Linked DNA regions of Homo sapiens: region 1 is linked to region 2. Evidence: fine-mapped expression QTL. A gene starts in region 2. The other region holds a variant in brackets. All regions are shown on one strand. Distances are from middle to middle.

Region 1 (4,392 bases), 200 kb after region 2:
AGATAGGGTTTCGCCTTGTAGCCCAGGCTGATCTTGAACTTCTGGGCTCAAGCAATCCTTCCGCCTCGACCTTCCAAAGTGCTGGGATTACAGGCATGAGCTCTACCACACCCAGACAAGATTCACTTATGAGGTCAGGCATTCTTGTAGTGTCAGTTTTTCTTTTTGTGGTAATTAAGATTGATCAGTAGTTCTGGTGTTGTCAGTCGGATCATCCATTATAAAAATCCCCATTCGACTAAATTGTTTTAGAATTGAGCGTTCAGAATTGCTTCTTAAATTAGCTATTTTAGGCCGGGCGCAATGGTTCATGCCTGTAATTCCAGCACTTTGGGAGGCCGAGGCGGGCGGATCACCTGAGTCAGGAGTTCGAGACCAGCTTGGCCAAAATGGCAAAACCCTGTGTCTACTGAAAATACAAAAATTAGCCAGGTGTAATGGTGCACATCTGCAGTCCCATCTACTCAGGAGGCTGAGGCATGGGTATTGCTTGAACCTAGGAGGCGGAGGTTGCAGTGAGCCAAGATTGTGCCATTGCACTCCAGCCTGGGTGACAGAGCGAGACTGTGTCTCAGTTAGTTACCCTGAAAATCAGTTCTTATAGGAAAGCCTGGATAAATGCTTCATATTTTCCCTCTATTGGTTATCTGTATAATGAGTTGCTGCCCCTCAGTAACCAAAGGTGACCAGCAAAGGGTTTTTTTGTGTATATTTTTAATATTGTAAAATTATAAATTTTTTAATATTTTGTGTGTTTCAGTCTATCATAGATACTATTTGTGTTTCTTGTTGCTTCTTAAAAGAGGTTGGGTCTCACTGAGTTGCCCAGACTGGACCCAAATTCCTGGGCTCAAGCAATCCCCCTGCCTCAGCTTCTGAAGTAGCTGGATTATAGGCACGTTCCACTGTGCCTGGCTTTTTTTGATGCTAAAATTGTCCCATTTGTAGCTTGTGAGAACTGTTTCGAGTTGGCTATTGTTTACTAAATTTTAACTACTTTGGAAGTTGAACTCATAGTTCCTTCAAGCTTAACTGCCAGCATCATTAAAACCTAAGATGTACTTTTAATTCCAGTTCACCCCCCAAACCCCACATTCCTTCTCTTCTTAGAGGGCAATATATATGGGTGTGTGCTGTGTTTTATGTTAGTCTAGTGAAAGTCATCTTGTAAGATTTTTATAGTTTGCTTATCCACAGTAATATACCAAGTGCTTAGAGCCAAAGTTTGTGCTTTTGGGGATGGGATGCAAATTCTCTGTCCAAGTCACGGTATTATCAACACACTTATTCACAACCCAAAATATATTTTAGGCTGTAGTTTTAGTAGTTTTTATTGACTTTACCGAAAAACAGGGCTAAGTTTACTTTGGGAAGCTTTCGTTTACACACACTCACAGGATTAATTTGCAATCATAAGAATTACTACCATCGTCAGACTTGCCACTCTAAATGACATTTGTGGAGATAGCCTTAGAAGTTTACCCTGCTCACAACAAGGTGCATTCTTTCTCAGTCTTATTTCTGTCTACTTGAGTGGATCTTAAATTCTTTGTATGGAATCAGATTTTCTCCAGAGTTAAGCTTTCAAAAGATACAAATGCTTAAGAGTTCACATCTCAAAGTAATTTTTCAAGAACAATAGTTATTTAAAAATTAAATTCCTAGGCCAGGCTTGGTGGCTCACACCATTAATCCCAGCACTTTGCGAGGCCAAGACTTGAGGAT[C/T]GCTTGAACCCAGGAGTTTGAGACCAGCCTGGGCAATATAGAGAGAAGCTGTCTCTACCAAAAAAAAAAAAAAAAAGTAGCCAGGTGTGGTGGTACTGCATACCTGTAGTCCTAGCTACTCAGGAGGCTGAGGCTGGAGGATCACTTGAGCCCAGGAGTTTGAGATTGCAAGTGAGCTGTGATTGTGACACTGCACCGTTACACTCCAGCCTGGGCAACAGAGTGAGACCCTGTCTCTGAAAAATAAATAAATAAATAAAAATTCAGTTTCTGAAATACTGGGATAAACTTTTAAGAGGAAGTTTACTGTAGCTACTTGGTATTTGGCTCTTGATGGTGCTAAAGCATCATATTCACATTAACTGCTCACAGAACATCTAAGGAGTGCTAGCATCTGCATTTACTTTGTAAAAGATGGGCAGAGAGGTGCGTCTACTTTCTTCCCTAAATGAGATTTTGATGATAATGGGTGTTTGTATGCCATGCCCCTCACCCACATTGTTTCACTTATTTCTCATTCTCACCTTACAGTTGAAGAACTGATGCATGGCAAGGCCGCATAGCTTTGCTGCATGGTAGAGCCAGGATTCACACTGAGCTCCATCTGATTCCAAAGTGAGGCCAGTGCCACAGTGCTGCCTCCCGTGACGGAAGACTAAGGGGATTTATAGCAGATTCAGATACAGCTATTCTAGTGAAGCAGTTCCGCAAACTAGAGTTCATAAAAATAGTCTTTGGAAGAGAAATAGGTCATTTTAATCTTTTTACTTTCTCACAAAAATAGGCTTTTCTAAAGTGAATTTGTAAAGGAAAGAATTATTGAGTGCAGTGCATGATGAGAGGTTTTTTTTTTATTTTTAGTCTATGACAAGATAGTCTCATGATTTTTTATTGAAATAAAATGTACATTTTGGATAATGCACAATCATAAATATTCAGCTGAGTTTTTTTTTTTTTTACTTCCTTTATACTTGCAGAATTGATGAGTTTTAACAGAGAATATTCATGTGTAACCAACACACAGAGGCCCTCATCATACTGAGTCACCTTCCCTTCCAAGGATAACAACTGTCCTGACTTCTAGCGCCGTAGACTAGTTGGGCTGGTTGAATGTTATCTAAATGTAACCACAATTACATTTATTATGTCTGGCTGCTTTCCTTGTTTTGTTTTGTTTGAGACAGACAGGGCCTTACTCTGTCACCCAGGCTAGAGTGCAGTGACATTATCAGGGCTCACTGCAGCCTCAACCTGCCAGGCTCAAGCCATCCTCCCACCTCAGCCTCTTGAGTAGCTGGGACCACAAGTGCACACCACGACACCCCACTGCCTTTTAAATTTTTTTGTAGAGACATGGGCTCACTATATTGCCCAGGCTGGTCTTGAACTCCTGGGCTTAAGTAGTCCTCCCGCCTCCGCCTCCCAAAGTGTTAGGATTACAAGCATGAGCCACCATGCCCGGCCACATCTGGCTTCTTCCACTCAACACTGTATATCTGAGATGTGTCCACATTATTGTTTGTGGTTGTACATTTGTTCCTTCTGTTTGCTATACAGTGTTCTGTGGCTGTACTATTTATTAGTCTGTTCTGTTGGACATTTGACTGATTTCTGGATTTTAGTTATTATGAATAGTTTGTGCTGTTGTGAAATACATGAGCACGTCTTTTGATAAGACATATATGTACATTTCTGTTGTATATATCCCTAAGGTGTAGAATTGAGTATTTATGAACCTAAGAGTGGATCATAGGATATGCATATGTTCAGATTAATAGATGCTGCCAAACTTTTTGCAAAGTGGTGGTGCCTGTTTACACTCTAGCAGTATGTGAGAGTTCCAGCAATTCAAGATAATAATTTTTCCAAATTACCCCTTTTGTTGGGTTGCTTTGGAGTTTGAATATAAAATCAAGTCTGTTAAAGAGTAAAATTAAAAGCAACAGCACATTAGGCTGGGCGCGGTGGCTTACGCCTGTAATCCCAACACTTTGGGAAGCCAAGGCAGGTGGACCACTTGAGGCCAGGAATTCAAGACCAGTGCCTGGCCAACATGGCAAAAGCCCATCTCTACTAAAAATAGGAAAATTAGCCGGGTATGGTGGCACACACCTGTAATTCCAGCTACTCAGGAGGCCGAGGCACGGGAATCGCTTGAACCCAGGAGGCAGAAGTTGCAGTGAGCCGAGGTCATGCCACTGCACTCCAGCCTGGGCAACAGAGTGAGAGACCCTATCTCAAAAAAAAAAAAAAAGAACAACAGTAAATTAAACCCACTATTTTAAAGTTACCAGTTCAGAAAAAGCTGGTTCTAGCACGTAGGTCTGATAGACCATATTCTAAAGGTCAGCTAAAAAGGACTTTCAAACCAGGGCAAGTAAGATTGTCCGTAGCATTTTGGGGCCAGAATGGCTTTAGTCTCTGAGTTGCCACAGGGTAAGGTAAGAACTATGAGCAGGTCCTTCCAACTCATGATTCCTAAGTTCCAGAAAAGTTAACAGGCCACAGCTTACATTGGGAGCTGAAGATTATCTGGGTCAGTTGGCTGTCTTTGGTATTTGGCTCGACTTTATGATATATGATGGGAATAATCAGCTTCTGAATGCCAGTAAGGTTGGGGAAGTGCTGAGAGGAGGGACTAGGCAGATTTATTACCAAGTGGTTAAT
Region 2 (4,392 bases):
CGCGCCACTGCACTCCAGCCTGGGGGACAAAGCGAGACTCTGTCTCAAAAATAAAACAAAATAAAATAAATGATATCCTTCTTCCAAAATGGTCAGAAATAGGTTTAACACATACCTCTTGTTTTACAGTACAGCTGAGCATCAGATCCACCACTGCTCTGTGCACGGCTAAATCAACTTACCTTATAAAAGCAATGACAGTCTCAGATTTTGTAGGCTTTTGAACTGGAGCTGAATTCTCTCCTTGCTATTCCTCATCACGAGGCTGGGCCTCCTCCTGAGAAGTACAACGCTGAGTCAATACAGTGGAGGCCCCATAGGGAAAGAAAGTTGCTCCAACCATCATTTACTAGCTCTAACAAGGACAAATTTTGTTAGTGGCATGAAGGGCACATACTGGACAAAATGGCCTTACAAATCAGGACTTACCATGACCCATTCTAGGCCCATTAAATTGTAAGCTGTCCTACACCAGCACCTGTAGAAGTGCTGAAGTCTTCTGACATCATCTAAGAAGATGTCAAGGTAAAGAAAGCCTTGTAAGCCTGAAAAGCATTTTCTGGAAGCCCAGAGCAAAACCTACTTCCACTTTGAGTTCTAATCCCATAATAATTATGATAATCTAACATAAAGAAGCTATAATACTCTTCAAGATTGGGAAAATAACAATAACTCAAAGTTGAATACCATTTTTACAGTTCACAACATACTTCCATAGACTTTACCCCATTTAATCCAGGCAACTATCCAGTGAGGTAGGAATTATCTTTCCAGAGAAGAAAACTGAAGCACAGGTTACACAACCTGCCCAAGATCCCATAGCTGCCTCAGGGCAGATGGAAATCAGCATTGAAGCATGCTGACTCCAAAACCCTCCATGCTTATACTAGGCTAATTTTCTTATTTCCAGGATATTATGCTGTTGCCTAAATGTACTACGGTTCATTCCTTGAGACATATTATACTGTTATCTTCAAAGGCTGAAAGGGGCAAGAAAGGTCCAACAGCTAATAAAACTTGTGTGTGGTTTTTGTTTTGTTTTGTTTTGAGAAGGAGTTTCGCTCTTGTTGCCCAGGCTGGGGTGAAATGGCGCGATCTTGGCTCACTGCAACCTCGGCCTCCTGGGTTCAAGCAATTCTCTTGCCTCAGCCTCCCAAGTAGCTAGGGTTACAGGCGCACGCCACCATGCCCGGCTAATTTTTGTATTTTTAGTAGAAACGAGGTCTAGCCATGTTGGCCAGGCTGGTCTCAAACTTCTGACCTCAGGTGATCCACCCGCCTCGGCCTCCCAAAGTGCTGGGATTACAGGCGTGAGACACCGCTCCCGGCCCTAATAAAACTTTGTATCACAGCTACATAAATTAAAACACTTGAAGAGCAACTATCTTTTAGGGATAAAGAGCCAACACCGGTAGAAAACGCAGCAAAGGATGTAGTTTCTGCACATCGCCTTAAATCTCTAAGATTTAAGTGTAAATTACAAGATGTAGTTAAAACCCACAATGACAGTGGGGTTACCACCTTGCAAGAAACTTCAAGGGAAATCACCAGACAACGTCTCATTTCACTCTGGCCCATAAGCTGCAACTAAAACCAGGTTGAAAGCCTGTAAGTGGCCTTCTGCAGTCTACCTGCTAGTGTATGGCAAACCCTCATGGAGTGGGGTTGTAAAGTGAAACAGCCTCTGCCTTGAAAAATCATAATTCAAGTGACCAATGTTGCTACACAACGACTAGATATGCCATATCCCTGGCTTAGGGTTTCTGAGGACCCCTGGGACTCCAGTTCACTGCAAACAAAGGACCCAACATGCATTTGGTCTTCCCCTGCTAAATGGGACAAGTTACCACCAGCAAACAAAGAATACCTCACCCCTTGGCCTCCCCCAGTGACAAGGTCGGTGCAAAAGGGGGCAAACTAGGGGGGCCAGAAGGCACCGGGCCTCCCTCTGGACGAACGGTCCGGGCAGCACCGGGAAGGAGGAGAAGTAGACAAAGGTCTCGGGGCACTCAGGAGGCTTCCTCCAGGCCCTGCCTGGGGAAACGGCGCATCCCGAGGCGAAGGCGTCGTTGCGCCAATGAAGCGGCCTCTCCCACGGCCTCCGCGGAGCCCCTGGCTGCGAGGCCCGCCCCGGCGGACCGGTCTGGCCCCCGCCCCCGCCCGGGCTCCATGGCAACGGCAGGCCGAGGCCTGGCTGCCCACGGATCGGCCGGGCCGGCTTCCCGGGCAGGCCTAGGATGCCCGGCCTGCTCCTCGGGCCCGCCGGCGTCTCCGCCCCACTCTCCGCCAGGCTGGCGGTCGGACCGGGCCCCCTCCTCACGACGACCACCCCCGGCCGCGGCAGGCTCCTCAAGAGGGCACGAAAGGGGAGAATAAAAAGCCCAATTCACCTGTTGTTACAGATGTGAAACAAGCCTCTGTGCACCGCGCATGAGCCGCGGCTCCCCCAACCACGGCCGGACTACAACTCCCAGCAGCGGCGGCGCGGCCCCTTCCGAGTCCCGTGGCGGAAGTCCCGCCACCGGCCCGGCGTTCCCCACCCGGCGTCACGGAGCCCGCCTGCGGCGCACGGCTCCGCTCCCCCGCGGGCCTGGAGCCCGGCCCCACCTGGGACTCGTCGTAGCCGCTCGGGGCACCCAGCGCCCGGGATGCCCCAGCACCCGGCCCAATGGGGCGCGGCGGCGGTGCAGGCGGGACTTCCGGCGGAGTCGCGAAGGGGACGGGTTGGCGCCGGCTGCTCTGGGGTCGCAGAGCGAGCGGGTTTGGGTGGCGGGGTCGGGCGTCAAGTTGCTGCCTTTCTCGGCGACTTAGCTGCCTGCAGTGTGAAAGCGGGAAGGGTCTTCTCGCCCTCTGCGAGCCACCCGCGCCTCCTGATGCGAATAAACAGCCCGGGTCATGGCTGAGCGGGGAACGGTTTCCAGCTCGGGCTCCGGGATTCCACCCGCCTTCCCCGCCACAGCTCGTAGCCACGCCTCTTCTCTTCCCCATCTCCCCTCTAATCTGTTTTTTTAGGGAGGTGAGCATTTTTGTCTTGTCTCCCCAGTTTGCAGGGAAGATGAAATCAACGTGTTGGTTCGTTGATTTCGTAAACTGTACAACGTTAGGCAAAGGACAAGGTGGCACTTGCTGGTCGCGGGGAGAGTGCCAGTCATAGTTGCTGGAAATCTGGAGGTCCGCCCGGCCACATCACCTCTTAGGAATGAGAAAGGGGATTGTCCCAATTACACGCTGTAGTCCTCTAGATAAGGTTCAAGTATAGGTTCAGTGGAATTCAGCTTCAAAAGGAAACAACGCAGTGGCGTAGCTCTGAAGCTGGGTCAGGATTTTACAGAGTATGGTTTTAAGATGTGGCCTTTAGGCCGGGCGTGGTGGCTCACGCCTGTAATCCCAGCACTTTGGGAGGCCAAGGCGGGTGGATCACCTGCGGTCAGGAGTTCAAAACCAGCCTGGCCAACATGGTGAAACCCCGTCTCAACTAAAAATGCAAAAAAATTAGCTGGGCGTGGTGGCGGGCGCATATAATCCTAGCTACTTCGGGAGGCTGAGGCAGGAGAATCACTTGAACCCGGGAGGCGGATGTTGCAGTAAGCCGAGATCGTGTCATTGAACTCCAGCCTGGGCGACAAGAATGAAACTTAAAAAAAAAAAAAAAAAAAGATGTGACCTTTGAGGCTGTATGAAGAATTAGTGCCATATCCCGTCACTTTTGTGTGCAAACAGTTCAACATGTATCTCTTTTCTTTCTCTCTACATTGGCTAGAAGACCGGGGTGTGGGGGTGGAACATCATTTATTCATTCAAATAATTAGTGCATCTGAACAGGGCATGGTGCTGTGTTGTGTGGAGAATAGAGAGATCCCTGCACGGACATCTGAGTGCTCTGTGTATCAGTTGCTAAGCTGGTGTGGAGGCTACAAAGGCCCTGCCTCAAGGGACTTAGAGCCTAGTAGAGAAGATGACAACATTGTGTGAAGGAAATGGAAAGTGGTAAATGCTGGAAAGGAGGTATTAGGTACTCCAAGAGTTCAGAGAAAGGAGTGGTTACTCCTGAATGGCAAAATGAAAGGAACGTGAACAAAGACATACGAGTGGAACAAGGGACAAATCCTAGGAATATTCAGTAGTTCAGTGTGACCACAGGGTTGGATGTGTGTGCAAGCTTTACAGGAAATAGAACTGAAAAACTGTTGGGGAGTGCCATACTAAGGAATTTTTACTTTTTTTGGTAAGACATTTAAAAAATTATTAGGAGAGTAAAATACTGCACTTTTTTGTTGTTGTTGAGACAGAGTCTCTACTCAGTCACCCAGGCTGGAGTGCAGTGGGGTGGTTGCGGCTCACTGCAACCTCTACCTCCCACGTTCAAGCGATTCTCCTGCCTCAGCCTCCCAA

What was found. PIP is the estimated chance that this variant, and not a neighbour inherited with it, causes the effect. A credible set is the group of variants that fine-mapping cannot tell apart.
Region 1: its variant is the best candidate, but not a certain one, in a credible set for the expression of DHX30 in whole blood (TOPMed, PIP 0.63).

What each region holds. Positions count from the first base shown.
Region 1 is chr3:47,604,287-47,608,678 of GRCh38, reverse strand. The region is part of intron 26 of SMARCC1 (SWI/SNF related BAF chromatin remodeling complex subunit C1); the gene reads left to right. The region is part of intron 2 of LOC124906234 (a long non-coding RNA gene); the gene reads right to left. Among named protein-coding and RNA genes, the nearest start is that of CSPG5, 28 kb to the right of the region's middle. The variant C/T (reference allele first, on the strand shown) is at 1,726.
Region 2 is chr3:47,801,211-47,805,602 of GRCh38, reverse strand. DHX30 (DExH-box helicase 30) reads right to left here and starts at 2,465. Exons shown (of 22, transcript NM_138615.3): 1 at 2,391-2,465; 2 at 183-277. RefSeq lists silencers at 671-867, 2,045-2,894 and an enhancer at 1,795-2,320.